Regions from separate parts of the Homo sapiens genome. Here region 1 is linked to region 2. Evidence: fine-mapped expression QTL. A gene starts in region 2. The other region holds a variant in brackets. All regions are shown on one strand. Distances are between the middles of the regions.

Evidence for each region. PIP is the estimated chance that this variant, and not a neighbour inherited with it, causes the effect.
Region 1: its variant is fine-mapped to the expression of PCMTD1 in whole blood (INTERVAL, PIP above 0.99).

Annotation. Positions count from the first base shown.
Region 1 is chr8:51,793,449-51,801,448 of GRCh38, forward strand. The region is part of intron 1 of PXDNL (peroxidasin like); the gene reads right to left. Among named protein-coding and RNA genes, the nearest start is that of PXDNL, 12 kb to the right of the region's middle. The variant A/G (reference allele first, on the strand shown) is at 3,542.
Region 2 is chr8:51,894,401-51,907,015 of GRCh38, forward strand. It overlaps PCMTD1 (protein-L-isoaspartate (D-aspartate) O-methyltransferase domain containing 1), which reads right to left and starts at 4,636. Exons shown (of 6, transcript NM_052937.4): 1 at 4,530-4,636. It overlaps PCMTD1-DT (PCMTD1 divergent transcript), which reads left to right and starts at 4,915. Exons shown (of 4, transcript NR_189279.1): 1 at 4,915-5,446. RefSeq lists a silencer at 4,143-4,832 and enhancers at 4,873-5,162, 5,333-5,392, 5,693-5,752.

The DNA of each region.
Region 1 (8,000 bases), 100 kb before region 2:
CACCTCTCCAGCAAGGGCACAGCGCTGAGCAGAGACTGAGATGGATGAATTAACAGAAGTAGGCTTCAGAAGGTGGGTAATAATGAACTTTGCTGAACTAAAGGAACATGTTCTAACCCAATGTAGAGCAGCTAAGAACCATGATAAAACATTATAGGAACTGGGCACAAGGACTCACGCCTGTAATCCCAGCACTTTGGGAGGCCAAGGTGGTCAGATCACTAGAGGTCAGGAGTTCAAGACCAGCCTGGCGAACATAGTGAAACACCGTCTGTACTAAAAATACAAAAATTAGTTGGGCGTGGTGACTGACACATGTCTGTAATCCCAGCTACTCAGGAGGCTAAGGCATGAGAATCACTTGAATCTGGGAGGCAGAGGCTGCAATGAGCCAAGATCATGCCACTGCACTACCCTGGGCAACAGAGCAAGACTCTGTCAACAACAACAACAACAACAACAAAAGATGGAAAAAAAAGTTACAGGAGCTGTTGACCAGAATAACCAGTTTAGAGAGGAGCATAAATGACCTGATGGAGCTGAAAAACACAACATGAGAATTTCACAATGCAACCACAAGTATCATTAACCGAATAGACCAAGCAGAAGAAAGAATTTCAGAGCTTGAAGACTATCTTGCTGAAGCAAGACAGGCAGACAAGATTAGAGAGAAAAGAAAAGGAATGAACAAGACCTCTGAGAACTATGGGATTATGTGAAAAGACGGAACCTATGACCGATTGGGGTACTTGAAAGAGATGGGGAGAATAGAACCAAGTTGGAAAACATACTTCAGGATATCATTCAGGAGAACTTACCAAACCTAACAAGACAGGCCAACATTCAAATTCAGGAAATCCAGAGAACCCCAGTAAGATCCTCCATGAGAAGATCAACACCAAGACACACAGTCATCAGATTCTCCAAGGTCAAAATGAAGGAAAAAATGTTAAAGGCACCTGGAGAGAAAGGCCAGGTCCCCTATGAAGGGAAGCCCATCAAACTAACTGCAGACCTCTCAGCAGAAACCCTACAAGCCAGAAGAGATTAGTGGCCAATATTAAACATTCTTAAAAGAATTTCCAACCCAGAATTTCATATCTGCCAAACTAAGCTTCATAAGCAAAGGAGAAATAAAATCCTTTTCAGACATGCAAATTCTGAGGGAATTCATCACCACCAGGCCTGCCTTGCAAGAGCTCCTGAAGGAAGTACTAAATATGGAAAAGAAAAACTGTTACCAGCCACTGCAAAAACACACTGAAGCACAAAGACCAATGACACTGTGAAGCAACTACATCAACAAGTCTCCAAAATAACCAGCCAACATCATGATGACAGGATCAAATTCATACATAATAATATTAATCTTAAATGTAAATGGACTAATTGTCCCAATTAAAAGACACAGAATGGCAAGCTGAATTAAGTCAAGACCCATCAGTGTACTGTATTCAAGAGACTCATCTCGTGCAGACACAGATAGGCTTCAAATAAAGGGATGGAGGAAAATTTACTAAGAAAATGGAAAGTAGGAAAAAGCATCCTAGTTTCTGACAAAACAGACTTTACACTAACCAAGATCCAAAAAGACAAAGAAGGGCATTACATAATGGTAAAGGGATCAATTCAACAAGAAGAGATAACTATCCTAAATGTATATGCACAAAATACAGGAGCACCCAGATTCATAAAAAAAGCTCTTAGAGACCTACAAAGGGACTTAGACTCCCAAAAAATAATAGTGGGAGACTTTAACACCACACTGTCAATATTAGACAGATCATCAAGACAGAAAATTAACTAGGATATTCAGGACTTGAACTCAGCTCTGGATCAAGTGGACATGATAGATATCTACAGAACTCTCCATCCAGAAAACAACACAATATACATTCTTCTTGGTGCCACATGGCACTTACTCTAAAATCAATCACATAATTGGAAGTAAAACGCTCCACAGCAAATGCAAAATAACTGAAATCATAGCAAACAGTATCTCAGAATACAGTGCAATCAAATTAGAACTCAAGATAAAGAAACTCATTCAAAACCACACAACTACATGTAAATTGAACAACCTGCTCCTGAATGACTCCTGGGTAAATAACGAAATTAAGGCAGAAATCAAGAAGTTCTTTAAAGCCAATGGGAACACAGAGACAATGTACCACAATCTCTGGGACACAGCTAAAGCAGTGTTAAGAGGCAAATTTATAGCACTAAATGCCCAAAAAGCTAGATGCGGGGGTCTGTCCTGCAGACCCTGACCCAATGATGGATGAATAAAGTACACTGACACACAGATACTCTGCTTTGCCAGTTCAGCTGAGTGTCTGGGCCACTATTTGCAACCGTGGCCCCGACTTGCCAGTGAGACTTACATTTATTCAGTAAAGATTAATTGACAAAGGTCATGACTAAACACACCTGTGGGTAATTAACCTGGTCACCCCGACCCTGGAGAGAGACATCGTGCACCCGCAAATGATCAAAGGTTGGTCTTAAGACCACATGAGTAAATAAGCTCATTAGGTAAACTCCCCACATTCCTTTGTACTCACTTTAAGCTATTTACTTAAGGTAAGGATCAGGTTGCCTTCAGCTATAATCCTTACTAAAGCTATGCAAATTTCTCGGCCTTCCAAGAAGGTTTGTGGCTATTACTATAACTATCTTTAATATTTTTCCCACCAGCCTGAATGAACCCCCACAACTAGAAAGATCTCAAATTGACACCTTAACATCACAATTAAAAGAACCAGAGAACTAAGAGAAAACAAACTCCAAAGCTAGCAGAAAACAAAAAATAACCAAGATCAGAGTGGAAATGAAAGGAATAACCAAGATCAGAGTGGAAATGAAAGGAGATAGAGACACACACAACAACAACAACCAAAAAAAAAAAAACCTTCAAAAAAATCAATGAATACACGAGCTGGTGTTTTGAAAAAAAAATTAATAAAATAGACTACTAGCTAGACTAATAAAGAAGAAAAGAGAGAAAAATCAAATAGACACAATAAAAAATGACAAAGGGGTTATCACCACTGACCCCACAGAAATACAAACAACCATCAGAGAATACTATAAACACCTCTATGCAAATAAACTAGAAAATCTAGAAAAAATGGTTAAATTCCTAGACACATACACCCTTTCAAGACTAAACCAGGAAGAAGTCAAATCCCTGAATAGACCAATAACGAGTTCTGAAATTGAGGCAGAAATACATAGCTTATCAACAAAAAAAAGCCCAGGACCAGATGGATTTACAGCTGAATTCTACCAGAGGTACAAAGAGGAGCTGGTACCATTTCTTCTGAAACTATTCCAAACAATTGAAAAGGAAGGACTTCTACCTAACTCATTTTATGAAGCCAGAATCATCCTGATACCAAAACCCGGCACAGATGCAACAAAAAAAGAGAACTTCAGGCCAATATCCTTGATGAGTATCAATGCAAAAATCCTCAATAAAATACTGGCAAACCAAATCCAGCAGCACATTTAAAAGCTTATCCACCATGATCAAGTTGGC[A/G]TCATCCCCAGGATGCAAGGCTGGTCAACATATGCAAATTAGTAAATGTCATTCATCACATAAGCAGAACTAAAGATAAAAACCACATGATTATCTCAATAGACACAGAAAAGGCCTTTGATAAAATTCAACACTGATTCATGTTAAAAACTCTCAATAAACTTGGTATTGATAGAACATACCTCAAAATAATAAGAGCCATTTATGACAAACCCACTGCAAATATCACACTGAATGGGCAAAAGCTAGAAGCATTCCCCTTGAAAACTGGCACAAGACGAGGATGTCCTCTCTCACCACTCCTATTCAACATGGTATTGGACCTTCTGGCCAGGGAAATCAGGCAAGAAAAAGAAATAAAGGGTATTCAAACTGGAAAAGAGGAAGTCAAAATGTCTCTGTTTGCAGATGACATGATCCGATATCTAGAAAACCCCATTGTTTAAGCCTGAAAGCTTATTAAGCTGATAAGCCCCTTTGGCAAAGTCTCAGGATACAAAGTCAATGTGCAAAAATCACAAGCATTCCTATAAACCAACAACAGACAAGCAGAGAGCCAAATCATGAATAAACTCCCATTCACAATTGCTACAAAGAGAATAAAATACCTAGGAATACAACTTACAAGGTACGTGAATGACCTCTTCAAAAAGAACTATAAGCCACTGCTCTAGGAAATAAGAGAGGACACAAACAAATGGAAAAACATTCCATGTTCATGGATAGGAAGAATTAATATCATGAAAATGGCCATACTGCCCAAAGTAATTTGTAGATTCAATGCTATTCCCATTAAACTACCACTGACATTCTTCACAGAGTTAGAAAAAAAACTACTTTAAAATTCATTTGGAACCAAAAAAGAGCCTGTATAGCCAAGACAATCCTAAGCAAAAAGAACAAACCTGGAGGCATCATGCTACCTGACGTCAAACAATACAACAAGGCTACAGTAACCAAAACAGCATGGTACTGATACAAAAACAGACACATAGACCAATGGAACAGAATAGAGATCTCAGAAATAAGACCACACATCTACAATCAGCTGATCTTCAACAAACCTGACAAAAACAAGCAATGGGGGAAGGATTCTCTATTTATTAAAAGGTGCTGGGTAAACTGGCTAGCCATATGCAGAAAATTGAAACTGGACTCATTATACAAAAATTATACCTTATACAAAAATTAACTCAAGATGGATTAAAGACTTAAATGTAAAACCCAGAACCATAAAAACCCTAGAAGGAAACCTAGGCAATACCATTCAGGACATAGGCACAGGCAAAGATTTCATGATGAAAACATCAAAAGCAATTGCAACAAAAGCAAGAATTGACTAACGGAATCTAATTAAACTATAGAGCTTTTGCAAAGCAAAAGAAACTATCATCAGAGTGAACAGACAACATACAGAATGGGAAAAAATTTTTGCAATCTATTCATCTGAGAAAGCCTAATATCCAAAATCTGCAAGGAACTTAAACAAATTTACAAGGAAGAAACAAAACAACCCCATTAAAACCTGGGCAAAGGACATGAACAGACACTTCTCAAAAGAAGACATTTATGCAGTCAACAAACATATGAAAAAAGGCACATTACTGATCATTAGAGAAATGCAAATCAAAACCACAATAAGATACCATTTGATGCAAATCAGAGTGGTGATTATTAAAAAGTCAAGAAACAACAGATGCTGGCAAGGCTGTGGAGAAACAGGAACCTTTTTACACTGTTGGTGGGAATGTAAATTAGTTCAACCATTGTGGAAGACAGTGTGGTGATTCCTCAAAGACCTAGAACCAGAAATACCATTTGACCCAGCAATCCCATTACTGGGTATATACCCAAAGGAATATAAATCACCTAGAATCAGAAATACCATTTGACCCAGCAATCCCATTACTGGGTATATGCCCAAAGGAATATAAATCATTCTATTATAAAGATACATGCACACATATCTTCACAATAGTTAAGACATGGAATCAACCCAAATCCCCATCAATGATAGACTGGATAAAGAAAATGTAGTACATATACACCATGGAATACTATGCAGCCATAAAAAGGAACAAGATAATTTCCTTTGCAGGGACATGGATGGAGCTGGAAGCCATTATCCTTAGCAAACTAATACAGGAACAGAACACCATACACCACTTTTTCTCACTTATAAGTGGGAGCTGAACAATGAGATCACATGGACACAAGGAGGAGAAAAACACACACAGGAGCCTGTGGGGGCAGGGCAGGGAGGGAGAGCATCAGGATAAACAGCTAATGCACGTGGAGTTTAATACCTAGGTGATGGGTTGATAGGTGCAGCGAGTCACTATAGCACACATTTACTTATGTAACAAACCTGCAAGTCCTGCACATGTATCCTGGAACTTAAAATTAAATTAAATTTTAAAAAAAGATATCTTCCTGAGAAAATGTGAGGTACAAGTAAATAAAATAATTATTACTATAACCAACATTGGGAAGTGTAAAAATATAATAATTGATTGTTGTCTTGGGCTGGTGCCATGAGAGCTGTCTAGGATTCCCATGCAAACAGAGTTATAGTCCCTACTTGGTGGCTGCTTTTAGCTAACTTGGAACATTTTAAAAATAAATTCTCAACACTGCAACAGCTTTTCAACTATACTTGTCTTTAGAGTTGGCCAAAATATAGACCATGGCAAAATCAGCCTCTCTATAACAGGGCAAGGTGAGCCAGGAAGGGAACGGCTCCAGGTAAGGAGGCATTCTGATCTAGGTATGAAGAACAAACCATTTTACTGTGCACCTACATCTGGCTTAAAACAAGGGTGCCAACTAGAGAGATGGAGATCTTTGTAAGTTTCTCCCTACCCATGCCCAACCCTCACAGCATTACAGGATTAACCATCACATCAGCACTCAAATATTTCTCATATCTGCTTGTCAGAATATTTAGCCTCTAATTCTCTTTTCTCCCTTAGCTGATTTTCCCTAGAAATTTTTGTCTTTGGAATCTATTTTCCTCTTTGAACAGGCACATACCACAAGCCTTTTCTGTAAAAGTAGTCATCAACACAGGTGAGGTAGTAAGTGAGGCTTACAACTAAAATCGTTTCAGTCCAGGCAACTCCCTGTTAAACACAGAGTGGTCCACAGCACTCTTAGAATGGAGGGCCTGCCCCATGTCAAACTTTCAAATGGGCAATATTTTCAGCACCCCTCAAGTTTCACTGGGCCAATTGGCTCATTCCTGCATGCAACATATTTTATGTTAATATCCCAACATAAAATATGTTGGTATGTAAAATATTTTATGTTAATATATTTTATATTGTCTATCTTCTCTGTTCTCTGCCCTGAAGGAACTCAGTCTCTCAGAAAGACAAGTTAATAACGCTAATTCCACGTGGTATATTCCCTGATTCAGATAAGACAGGAAAGGTGTGTCACGCAGCCTGGGAGTAACAGGGAGAAGAAAGGCTTCCCCAAGGTGAGCTCTGAGCTGCTTCTGCAGAACAAGCACAGGCAGACTCAGTGTGGAGAAAATGGCCAAGGATGCATTCCTGGCAGGAAGAACTGTTGTGGGAAGTCAGGGACCCTGAACGGAGGGACCAGCTGGAGCCACGGCAGAGGAACATAAATTGTGAAGATTTCATTTTAATATGGACACATATCAGTTCCCAAAATTAATACTTTCATAATTTCTTATGCCTGTCTTTACTGCAATCTCTGAACATAAATTGTGAAGATTTCATGGACATTTATCAGTTCCCCAAAATAATACTCTTATAATTTCTTATGCCTGTCTTACTTTACTCTCTTAATCCTGTTATCTTTGTAAGCTGAGGATGTACATCACCTCAGGACCACTATTGTACAAATTGATTATAGAACATGTGTTTGACAATATGAAATCTGATTGTAAAACACGGGTGTTTGAACAATATGAAATCAGTGCACCTTGGAAACAAACAGAATAGCAGTGATTTTAGGGAACAAGGGAAGACAACCAAAGGTCTGACTGCCTGCGGGGTTGGGCAGAATAGAACCATATTTTTCTTTTTGCAGAGAGCCTATAAATTGACGTGCAAGTAGGAGAAATATCACTAAATTCTTCTCCTAGCAAGGAATATTAAATATTAAGACCCTAGGAAAAGAATTGCATTCCTGGGGGGAGGTCTATAAACAGCCGCTCTGGGAGTGTCTGTCCTATGTGGTTGAGATAAGGACTGAAATACGCCCTGGTCTCCTGCAGTACCCTCAGGCTTATTAGGGTGGGGAAAAGATCCCGCCCTGGTAAATTTGAGGTCAGACCAGTTCTCTGTTCTCGAACCCTGTTTTCTGTTAAGATGTTTATCAAGACAGTATGTGCACAGCTGAACATAGACCTTCATCAGTAATTCTAATTTTGCCCTTTGCCTTGTGATCTTTATTGCCCTTTAAAGCTTGTGATCTTTGTGACCAACTC
Region 2 (12,615 bases):
ACTCAGCAGAGGCACAGTGGTCAAGAACACAGACTTGGAAGAAGACATGGTTGGGATTCAAATCCCAGAGCTCTTCTACCTACTAACAACTCCTTCAAGATCATGAAGTTCCAATTTCTTCACCTGTAGAATGGGGATAATATAAATTATAATGACCACATGAGAACAAAGGATTCAGCACACTGACTGACATAAACACCCAAGTGGGTTTGTTTTGTTTGCTTGTCATCAGGCAGGGAACATGATCAGGACTACATTTAGGACAATTAATAAGCAGTATTCACAATGAATGACAAACCTAGAGATTAATGTCTCTTGCTGTGTATATGGCTGCTGGAAGAACTGAAGAAAGATAGAAGAAATCAGGAACCACAATGCAGTAAGATGACAAAAAAAAAAAAAATTCTAAGAAAAGGAGAGAGAGAAGAACCAAGGATGACCTTTTGATTTTGAGTCTAGATGACTAAGAAAATGCAAAGGTCATTAATATAAACAAGCAAGAAGAATCAGGCTTGCAAAAAAAGTTTAATTCTGAATCTACTGATTCAAGATTACAAAATGACAGCTACTAAGTTGATCAGGGAGAACAACATTGGCAAATCTGAAGCTTGGGAATGAAAATAAGGCTGATGATACACAAGTGGAAGCCTGAGCAAAGAGGGTGAGGGGAATGAGCAGTTGAAACCACGGATCTGTGTGGGATTGCCAAAGAAGAGAACAAACTCTAAAAAGGAAAAGAACTAAACCTAAGGTAACACCTACAGGCAACATCTATCTATACTTCAGGAAGTGAGAGAGAAAAACAAACAAAGGCCCCAAGAAGGGAGAGTTGGAGATGCCAGTTTGTGAAAGTCACCAAGACAGACCTTCACAGCATTTCACATTCTACAGCTCTTTCAATGCTCATTATAACTTTAGATTATAAACTGAACTGACTTCATCAATTGATAACATGATTATCATTAAAGGTTTTTAAGAGCCTGCAAGTTACTGAAGAGTGCTCAGTAGAAAACACAGAAGAGTGTTTTATGCAAATTAGTTTTTAAACTCCAAGAATATTTTAAGCTCTAGAAATCATACCTGATGCATGTCTTGTATCAAGACATAAAGTTGAGTTATTTCTGGCTACCCGTGCATAATGTTCCAAAAAGGATTTTCAGGTTAAACTGGAAAATATGCTATGTCTTCCCATCAGCAATACCTCTCATTAATTTTTGAGAATACACATACACATAGTGTTTGATTCACAATCCTTCCCCACTTCAACAGCTGAAAAAATCTTACCATATTCTAAAAACGTCTTTAGGGGGCTGAAATATTTCTGTGTCACCTAATTATAAAACCCACTCACATCCAACATCCAATGTTACGTTGACCGAGAGATAATCAATGGCAGATACGCCATTTAGGTATGAATCCAATTATCATCCTTAACAATTGCCAGTAAAATGTCAAAGCTTTTCCTGTATTTTTGGTTTCTTCTCAAATACAGATTACAACTGACCATACTTTATTAATGTTAGTATTTGTCCCATTTCTTTTTTTTTTTTTTTTTTTTTTTTTGAGACAGAGTCTCACTCTTTTGACCAGGCTGGAGTGAAGTGGAGCGATCTTGGCTCACTGCAACCTCTGACTCGCAGGTTCAAGCGACTCTCCTGCCTCAGCCTCCCGAGTAGCTGGGATTACAGATGCCCACCACCAAGCTCGGCTAATTTTTGTATTTTTAGTAGAGACGGGGTTTTGCCATGTTGGCCAGGCTGGACTCGAACTCCTGACCTCAGGCGATCCACCTGCCTCAGCCTCCCAAAGTGCTAGGATTACAGGCGTGAGCCACTGCCCCCGGCCGCCACATTTCTTCCAACTATGTAGTTGCCACATCTAGTGGAAAATGAAAAAAGATTAATAAACCATATTATGACACCCTATTGTCTGTCATTATGCATTTTAAGTGACTACCAAATATTTTAAAATACCAATAATTACATAAGTAAATTTTAATCCTTTTAGACTTTTTTAGGGCCCTCTTGGTATTCTTTCCAGCACACTAATTTACAAAAAAGTTCAACTACGTTCATAAAAATGTTTACTGATATGAGACTATCCTTCCGAGTTTGTAAGCAATACGCAGCTGTGAGAGCTACAATTTACAATAACATCCCAATTTACCATGGCACCCAGCAGTGTCTAAAGTAACACAAATCCCCATCTTCTTGGTTAACAGCATAAGATCAAGGAGTTTAAAATTTTAGTAATATGCCACCAGAAACCTCATCTAAAAAAATACCATTATAGTTTCACACTATATTCTCTAGACTATTTTAAATGCATGTGATTACATTCATGTAGTTATTCTGTAAGGAACATTTCAAAGAAAGCAGAAAAAACCGTAAGGGCAACAATTTTTCGTTCATAGGAGGTAAAACAAGAGCAGAAAACACAGGTTCTTGGATTAAGCACTCCTGAATATAAACACGCACTATTACAAAAAAAAAAAAAAAGCAATGGGATCTTGAGCAGTTCTTTTACTCAAAGCCTCTATTTATTACTCTATAGAATGAGAAGAATGTCATTTATGTTGTTATGAGAAATATATGAGCATATTATTACCAAAAATAACTAAAATGTCATGGATTTTTTTATTCCTTTCGAGCACAGTTTCCAAATCATAAAATACTACACAATTTGGCTTAAAATTTCAGGCTATGCATGTTTAGAACCAGACGTTGTTCGTGATTATCTTCCTCAGTTGTTCTTTCCCTGGAAGCTAGCACCAAGATGAACACAGTACATTTTTAATAAATACAAGCTAGTGATTAAATCAACAAAGCCTCCAGCTCTTCTGCACACAGAAATACAGTATGCAATGGGAATTTCCTAGCTTTCTGTCTTACTTAATAGTAGGCAGTGTAGTATCACCCCTCCACTTCCAGTTTACTCCCTATAGCTTACTTACCAAAATATTTAATCCCTGTTGCTTTTTTTTTCTTGTCTCAGGCTAGGGCCACTAGCTTTCTATCTTTCCTACCTTACCTTTCCTTCACATATTAGCTACTTCATGTTAAAGAAATTACAAGTGTTCAACTGACCATATGGAATTAAAATTTACTTAGAAAAAAATGAAATAAAAAAAACCAAAAAGTAAACTAATTCAGCAACTTTATGTTTTATGGAGTCATCTAGCCTCATGTAAACTACCATTAAGCAATACGTAAACATATTAATCTGCTTAATACGAAAGTAATGTCGTCTGGCCGCAGACATTCTGAAAGTTTTGCCACATTGTTTCAAAATATTGGCTTGTAGCCCTTTTCAAAGCTACTGATTATTGAAAACTTGGCGACCATGTTTAACAATGAAGAAAAGGCTTCCCCAAGCCTACGTAGATTGGATTCTCTAATACATAGTAATAATGTTTTTTAAAATAATGAGGTGTGTAATAAAATGGAGGAATATCCATGATGCATTGTTGGCTAATAAAACGATATACTGTACTATATATGATCCCAATCTTGTTTCTAAAGCACACTCATTAAATGCACAGAAAAAAAAAATCCTGAATAACTACCCACCACACTTGGAGACTGGCTACCCTGGGTAGTAAGAAGGAGAAATATGGGGGGAAGGGCGCGAGAGAGGGCAGGTTTCCTCATTGTTTGGCTGCTTCATGTTTTTCTCAAGGAGCAAGCAGTACTTTTGTAATTAAAAAAATAAATAGGGGAAAAACACTGCTAAAAGCATACTTTTTTCCTCCGTAGCAAATTCTTCTGATTTGTAATGTTAAAAATATATCTCTGGTTTCTCGATTCTAAAAAGAGGACACACGAAAACAAAATTATAGAAGTTCCAAAAAATCTTGGATTTGCAAAATTACTCCCTCGGGTTCTGCCCGTGGGTCCTCCCCATGCCGGTGTCTGAAATTCCCCAAGCAAAACGCGGGCACTGCACTTCCCCGGAACGGTAGTAGACGCTCAAAAACACAAAAAGAGGCCTTGGCGCCTGCTATAACCTCTCAGTCCCCTCCCAGCCCCCGAGACTTCCCCGAGTCTACGTAGACTGGATTCTCTGCCTCCAAAACCAAAACAGAAGTCACTGGGCGGATCCAAAACGGCCCTAAGGGGCCCGCGGGCATCTCAAGACGCCAGCCTCGGGACTCTGGTCCCCAAGCCCAGGTCAGAGCCGAGGACGAGCCGAGGACGGGCCGAGGACGCGGCGCCCCGGCCTCCCTCGGGCCCCCGACCTCCCCGGCCCCAGGGACCCCGGCTCCCGACCTCCAGGCTTCGCTGGGCCCCTTTCGACTCCCCGACCTCCCAAGTCCTCCGCCCCCGGCCCGTCCTTCCCCCAACCTGCCCCGCAGCGCCTCAGTTTCCTGGCCCCCGACCTGCCCGCCCTTAAGTCCCCCTGCCCCCGACTCTTCGGCTGCCGTCCCCCTGGCCCTCTGGCCTCCAAGCGCATCCCAGTCGCCCGCCCGGCCCTAGCACGCGGGACTCGCACACCCCACGACCCCGAGCCCCCACTGGCGGCGGCGTTACCTGTGGCGCGGGCAGCGGCGCGCAGGCCAGGCGCTAGGACTCGGCGGGGTCCGCAGCAGCCAGACGCCGCTACCACCACAATAACAACACGGACGCCACCGCCGAGTGGAGAGGCGGGGCCCGGACCCGCGACTGGAGCAGCCAGAGCCTCCCGGACTCCGGAGCCGCCGGGGTCCGGGCATGCGCAGAGAACCACGGGCACAGGGGCAGCTCCCCGCGGACGCCAAAGTCAACAAGGCCGGGAGACGCCCCCATCTGGCCCCGCCCCCCTCAGGGCTCGCTCCGCCCCCAAGCCCAAACAACGCGAGGCCTTGACAGGCCAGAAGACGATGGCGGTAGGGGAGATCACGCGAGAGCATGGCCTCCACCTCTCCTCCCCACCGCCATCTCCACGTTCTCGCACCGGCGCTGGGGTGCAGGCTTTCAGTGGTCTCAGGGCTACGGCTTGTCGGTGCCTCGCCGCACAGTCCCCTTTGCATTGAAGGACACGGTCTTACGGTGTAGGAGCATTTTTGAGGTGCATTCCTGGATTTGGAGGCGAACCCCCAATGGTTACCTCCACAGAGGCTTTGCGAAGGGCGCTCACTGACTTAGGTGAAGAGCGAAGGCTCAAGACTGTGCCGCTTTATAGTGGCCCCTTGACGTCCAGAAGTTCCCCCCAGCGCCGGTCATAAGCACTCCCGCCGCCTGGGCCCCGCCCTGCCTGCCAGGCGCCCTCCAGCCTCAGCTCCCGGACGCCCGGCGTGGCCGCTTTCTCGCGTCTTGCTGACCCGGGCCGGGGGCGTGTGCTCCTCCTGCAGCGGACGGAAGATGCTGGGCCACGCAAGTTTCCCTGGGCTTGGTTAACCACCCCAAAGCCCATTTCCAGAAGGAAAGGGTGTTGAGGAGGAGGGATAGAAAGTCGAGAAGAGGGCCGGGTGAGTGGCTCACGCCTGTCATCCCAGCACTTTGGGAGGCCGAGACAGGCGGATCACCTGAGGTCAGGACTTAGAGACCAGCCTGGCCTACATGGTGAAACCCCGTCTCTACTAAAAATACAAAAATTAGCCGGGTGTGGTGCCGTGCGCCTGTAGTCCCAGCAACTCGGGAGGCTGAGGTAGGAGAATCGCTTGAACCCGGGAGTCGGAGGTTGCAGTGCTGAGATGGCACCTGGCCTGGGCGGCAAGAGCGAAACTCCATCTCAAAAAAAAAAAGAAGAGGAAATGAGGCATAGGGGCAGGCGAGCCGGGAAAATATTGCTACTAAGGATCCTAAGCAGTGAACATGCTGTTAATACTTGTAAGACTCCTAGCAAACTGCATTTAATTTTTTAAATTAGTTTTAGTGTACATAAAGGCATGTCTTTTCCAAATACTGTACTTTTTGAAGTGTTCTTTGTTGTTCATTAATCTTTGTGCGTTTCCCTTCAGTCTCTAATAGTAGGTTGTAGCATGATTTGCTTCCATCGTGTGAATTCTGTTCGGTTTTGATTTTCAAGTATGAGAGTGAGCGTAAGCTACCCTTATAGGTTACCTAAGGTAAGTTAGAATTAGAACGTCTTTATGCTAGGGTTACTACTCCCCACCATAACCAACCATCTGCAAAAGCGTTCAGAAAGAACATGCTAGCAAGGTCAAAAGCTTCAAATCACGAAATAAGAACTTGAAAACGAGCAAAATTGCTGCTGAGGCGCTCTGCCATTTAACTCAAAGGCTTCACTTTATTTAGGTTTAAAGTATGAGTGCATATTCAGTGGACATTGAGCTCCGAACTGTTCAAAATCTCTATTCATCTGCATTCTGGAGTAGAGCTGCGGGTCACATTATTAGCTCCATCTTTGGATTTCTGCCTGGACCCAGGGCACTCCTAACCGTTGTGGGATCATATAACAATCTTACAGGATGAATTTTCTGTTAGTCCAAGCAGAAATTTTGGCACATGAAAACTATCTTACCATAAACAAACAAAAAAAGTACAAATGGTAATCTAAGGAAAATAGCTAAAATCATTAAACAACTCTTACAGCCGTTTCCCCTGTTTTCTCTCCATTTTTTAAAAGCATATTTTCCTTTACTTTCTTCCTTCTGCTATGGGAATTTTTCAGGGTTCTAGACCTTTTTTCTCTTCTGCGGCTGGAAAGTTAAACACAGGTCATTTTTTAAATAAGACTGCTAGTAAATACCTTCTTAATAAACAACACCAAATGCTAGTCTTGTGGGTGAGTAGTTGAACAGCAAGTAAAGCACTCTATCACCTGTAATTTTCCTGTGGTAGGCACACCCCATCTCTACCTTCACGTAATTTCTGATTATGCCTCCATACCTTACACATATAATTCATTTGTGGGTGGGGGCGACAGAGTCTTTTGCTCTTTTGCCCAGGCTGGAGTGCAGTGGCAACCTCTGCTCACTGCAACCTCCACCTCCCGGCTTCAAGCAGTTCTGCCTCAGCCTCCCAAGTAGCTAGGATCACAGGAGCGCACCACCACCCCCTGCTAATTTTTGTATTTTTAGTAGAGATGGGGTTTCCCCTGTTGGCTAGGCTGGCCTCAAACTCCGATCTCAAGTGATCCACCCGCCTCGGCCTCCCAAAGTGTTGGGATTACAGGCATGAGCCACCACGTCTGGCTATAATTCACTTCTTGTGTGTGACTTCCTACTAATTTGTAATCATGAAAGTTGGGCACATACCCAGTATGCTCACTATTTCTCTGCAGGGCCTGATACAGTGGCTGCTACAACACTGATACTCTGCATTTGTTGAATGAGTAATTTAAATTTTAAATTATCATCTAGAATCATTTAGAGATTTATTTAGACTTTGATAAATTTAGATAACCCACACACAGTTTATTCCTAGAGTTCTTGATACATTGTTACAGTAAGTTTGGTCCTGGCAACAGCAATAACACTTACTGTAATAACTTAATTCTTCATACGAGGTTGCTTCACTTTTATTATTAAGCAGAAAATACCCAAAGTAAAATTGAGCTATTTGGGACTCCTTTCAGAATACTGTGTAGGCTGAAGCATTGTTGTATCAGAAGTGCTCTGTTATTTGAATGCATAAGGTATTCAACAAACAAATGCTTATTAAATTAAATGGTATTCAGCATACAGCTACTGTCACCGTGCTAGGAGTTCACATTTTTCATATGCGTGGCAGTTAGCACTGGTGCATGTTTCCTTCAGCCTCAGAAATGGAGGTGTCTGCGTGTTGCCCAGATCTACCTTGAAAACTCTAGTTGCTTCCTAACACCTAGGTTGTATAGTGGGACTTGATTATGTTTTATAAAGCCAAGTCTGGTCTGTGAGGACTGAAAGGATTTCCTCATCTTAACTCTAATTTGGCCTGCAATGTCTGGGGAAAACCCAAAACTAAAATGTAACTAAATGTGGAACTGTTTTTTTCTGCAGTTTGATTTCCTTGTACCATTTTCAGTACAGTTAAATTCATCACCTCCCCTACCTCACCATCCCCCTCCCCCTGCAAAAAAAAAAAAAGCAAAAACAGAAGTATTTTCTCTCTTAAAGAGAATTGTCATTGGCCAGGCACAGTGGCTCACGACTATAGTCCCAGCCCTATAGGAAGCAGAGGTGGGAGAATCATTTGAGCTCAGAAGTTGCAAGATTTCAAGATCAGCCTGAGCAACATAGTGAGACCTCATCTCTGCAAAAAATTTAAAAATTACCTGAGTGTGGTGATGCATGCCTGTAGTCCCAGCTATTCCAGAAGCTGAGATGGGAGGATTACTTGAGCCCAGGAGTTAGTTTCTAATTGGATGTAGTCTGCACAGGCAGATTTCATTTTCAGTATTAAAAAGGTCAGTAATTTCTGAAATATTCACTTGACAATTAATAGGATTAAATGACTTTGGGAAAGCATAATTTTATTTTAAATTGCACATATAATCCCTCAATTACATAGATTTTAATGCTAGGATAATCTTCCAATAAAAGGAAATATAAGTTATCAAAAAATGAATTTCTTTTAGAAAAATAAGCATTTATAATTTATTGTCTACAGTAAACAAAAAGTGACTTTAACTCACAAGTTAAAATTACTCTTATATGGTGCTTAATCTATATAAATATCTTTCCTTTATTAAAAATTCTGCTTCTTAAAAAACAGAATCATGGAGTGGAGAAAAAGGAAAACTTCTGCTTGTAAACTTAAGTGCATCAAAACTGTGGATAAACATCTTTTTAATGTATATGTAAAATTTAATATTTTTTAAAGAATCTATTAAAGTTCAATAAACATTTTCTGACACTATGATAGATGCTGAGGATATTGCAATAATATATGATATAGCTTCTGTCTTAATAAACTTACATTCAAATAATAGAAGGAGGAAAGTGACCCTTGACATAATAGTAAGGGTACAAATAAAATACTCTTGCTCCATAGTAGTGTTCCATGGCAGAAGTCAAATTTGAATCAAGCTTTGAAATTTGAATAGAATTTTTGAATTATGGAGATAAAGAGAATAGCTATTTTAGGAACATGGAATATAAAAGAATAACGCTTACATAGATCATTTGTTTTCAAAGAGCAGAGATTAATCTGATTTAGCTAGAACATAGAATGCAAAAAGGATAATGGGAGCTAAGCCTAGAAAGATAGACTGCAGCCAGATTTTGGTGGTCATTAGATTGGATGCAACAGCCAGCAAGGAGCCAAAACTTAAGTGTTCACTTTTATGTAAATGTAGCTGACGCAAGTACCTTGTATTAGAACTAAAAATTATGCTGTATATAACTATTACTGTAGTTAGGTGAAACCATTTCAGAGTCTGCTTTAGTGATTCATAGTGTAAATGAAGTTACTGTGTTTATGTGTGTGTGTGTGTGCACATTATATGTATGTATGTGTGTTTTTAAGTATGACATTTGAATTCTGAAATGAAGATGAAAAAGGCTTTGGTCAGTAAACCTGTCTTTCTTGGTCAGATACTGAACCACAGTAGTAAGTCCAGGCACTGAAATGATAATTCATATGTATGGATTCTTCTTGGCTCTAGGTTGATGAACAGAGCAATTATGAAGAGTTGACTAGAACCAACTGATCTTTTTTTTTTTAATTCCACTAAATAGAATAGTTTGCTAAAAATAATAGTAAAAATAGGAGCTGTGACAACAAATTCATTATTAGGGCAGAACAGAGACTTTGAAATGAAAAATCCTAAAACAAAAGCTAACCTCGATAATGAACTCTTTTTTCAGCAAAAATACCTCAAAATGTTATTTCAATTCTGTGTTCCTTCAAGGAGATATTTACAGAGCGTGATCCACACCAAAGTCCCTGGAAAAGTGTTCAGTGTTGCCCAACTTGAAGGTCATGGCTAAGTGATAAATGTAGTCTAAAAAACACAGGTGGTTGGATCACACTGTTTCCACTGCCCCTGCTGCCAGGACTAGCTATAAACCAGTGTGTAACATGAGCAGCATGTATTGCAGCTATCCTCCCTCCTTTCTTTTCCGTAACCTCAGTAAGCAGTGCCCTCAGGCTGCCTGCAGCTGTGCGGGTGCCCCCTCTATGGTGTCATCCATGCCTTCTCCATCAGTGCTGTCCTTTGACCCCACCTTTCTTCTCCTAATCTGCAATGTGTCCTGCTGGACACAGGACTCAGCTAGAACCATGTTAGAAAGACCATGTGATAAAAAAAAAAAAGTTAATGACAAGATACTTAATATATGAAATCAGCTTTATTTCCCTCCAGGAATATTTTTATTTAAACAGTTCTTAAAAACTCAATCTACAATTTTTACAAAGGAATTAAATAATGATGTTCTATTACTTATAAGGAATTTGAGGCCTCAGGAGTAAGCTATAGCTAGATTGTTTTAGGCAGGAGGACTTTCTGTGTTCTTAGCTTCCCTTGGTTTCTAATTAAAAGGTTGGAAAATGAGATACATCTCTGACATATTAGTTTATATAGTTGGCCTTCCATATCCATGGGTTCCACACCATAGAGTCAACCAACCACAGATGGAAAATATTCCCCCCAAAAATGGATGGTTGCATCTGTACTAAATGTGTAGACTTTTGTTTGATCATTATTCCCTAAACAATACATGCTGAATTTCCTACCAGAGACAAAAGCTTCAGTCATATTTTTTATATACTTATATCTTAGGCAAGACTTTAATAAACCAAGAAATGGTTAATTTTCACAAAATATATGTTAATAGACCATTAATGCCAGTGCATGAATTAGCTTATGGTTTTTGTTCCTAGCTACCGTTTTTTGTTGTTGTATTTTTTGGAGACAGAGTCTCACTCTGTTGCCCAGGCTGGAATGCAGTGATGTGATCATAGCTCACTGCAGTCTTGAACTCCTGGGTTTAAGCAATCCTCCTGCCTCTGCCTCCTAAGCAGCTGGAACTACATGCATGTGCCACATCATGGAGCTAATTTTTAAATTCTTAGTAGAGATGGAAGTCTCATAATGTTGCCCAGGCTGGTCTCAAACTCCTGGCCTCAAGTGATCCTCCTGCCTCAGCCTCCCAAAGTGCTAGGATTACTAGTGTCAGCCACCGTGCCTGCCCCTAGCTACTGTTTAAGTTCAGGAATATCAAAGAAAAAAAGCACCAGACGACTGGGCACGGTGGCTCACACCTGTAATCCCAGCACTTTGGTAGGCCGAGGCAGGCGGATCACGAGGTCAGGAGATCGAGACCATCCTGGCTAACACGGTGAAACCCCGTCTCTACTAAAAATACAAAAAATTAGCTGGGCGTGGTGGCGGGCACCTGTAGTCCCAGCTACTCGGGAGACTGAGGCAGGAGAATGGCGTGAACCTGGGAGGCGGAGCTTGCAGTGAGCCAAGATTGCGCCACTGCACTCCAGCCTGGGCGACAGAGTGACACTCCATCCCCCCCCCAAAAAAGAAAAAGAAAACAAAAGCACCAGACAAGGTAAACAGGAAAGGAAGACTTCATATAACATTTACATTATATTAGATATTATTAGTAATCTAGACATTATTTATCATATATGGGAGGATGTGCATAGGTTATATGCAAATACTACCGTATTTTATATCAGGGATTTGAGCATCCAGATGTTGGTATCCAAGGGTGGGAAGTCCTGGAACCAACCCCCTATGGATACCGAGGGGCAACTGTATTTTTATTTTACACCTTTTTCTTTTCCCCTAATGTATTTTAGCAGATAGCCAATTGTGTGATTCCTTGCCTTGGTGATGTAATGAAGTTTTTGGCAGGGCAAAAAGCAGACTTTTCTTGTACAGCAATGACCCTAATTTCCTCCCGACACTATAAATGGAAAAGAGGAATATGGATTCATTGAGCAGTAAAACAAGCCAAAATCTGTTTACCAAACAGCATCATAGCAGGTGGCAAAACCTCAGGGGAAATGGATGCATGCTACACATAGGCAGGAGTTTTCCACTTGGGGTTTCCACCTTTGCCTCATTTCCTCATGCCCCACATGTAGAATCGAATCTGCAGAACTTCCAGAACTGAAGGGTCCATCCCAGCTAGGACAACAAGCCTCTCACAACCAATGGCTTATGACCCACAGAGCCTCCTCAATGATTTGACTATATGTGAGATTCCAGAATATTTTAATCATCCTGTAGATAGGAGACCTGAGAGTATAACTCAAAGAAAAATTTCTCGTTTGTTTCAAAAAATATGAGCTCAAAGTCAAAAATAATTTATTAATTATTTTTAAAAATTTAAATAATTAGAATATACTTGGCTTACCAGATTTTCTAAACTGAGCTATCCTCTTTGACTAGGCTATATTACCTTATGATCTAAAACTTAAACAATCTCTTGTGGTTGTTTAATGACATTCCAACATGTCATGAGAAAATATTCTTGGAAAGCTGTCTGGTGGTCAGGGGTTCTCAACACCTCTACTTTTGCTTGCCACGTACTTCAGACGACCACACAGCCTGGTTTGCTCAAGTCAGTCCCAGTTTATGACTGTTATCCTGATGGAATGACTAATGGTTTTCCATGTCACTCTCAGAAGTGTCCAGGTTTGGATGATAAATTATATATATATATCTCTCTCTGCGTATAATTTATATATAAAAATTATAATGTATATATAATATATATCATACATACAG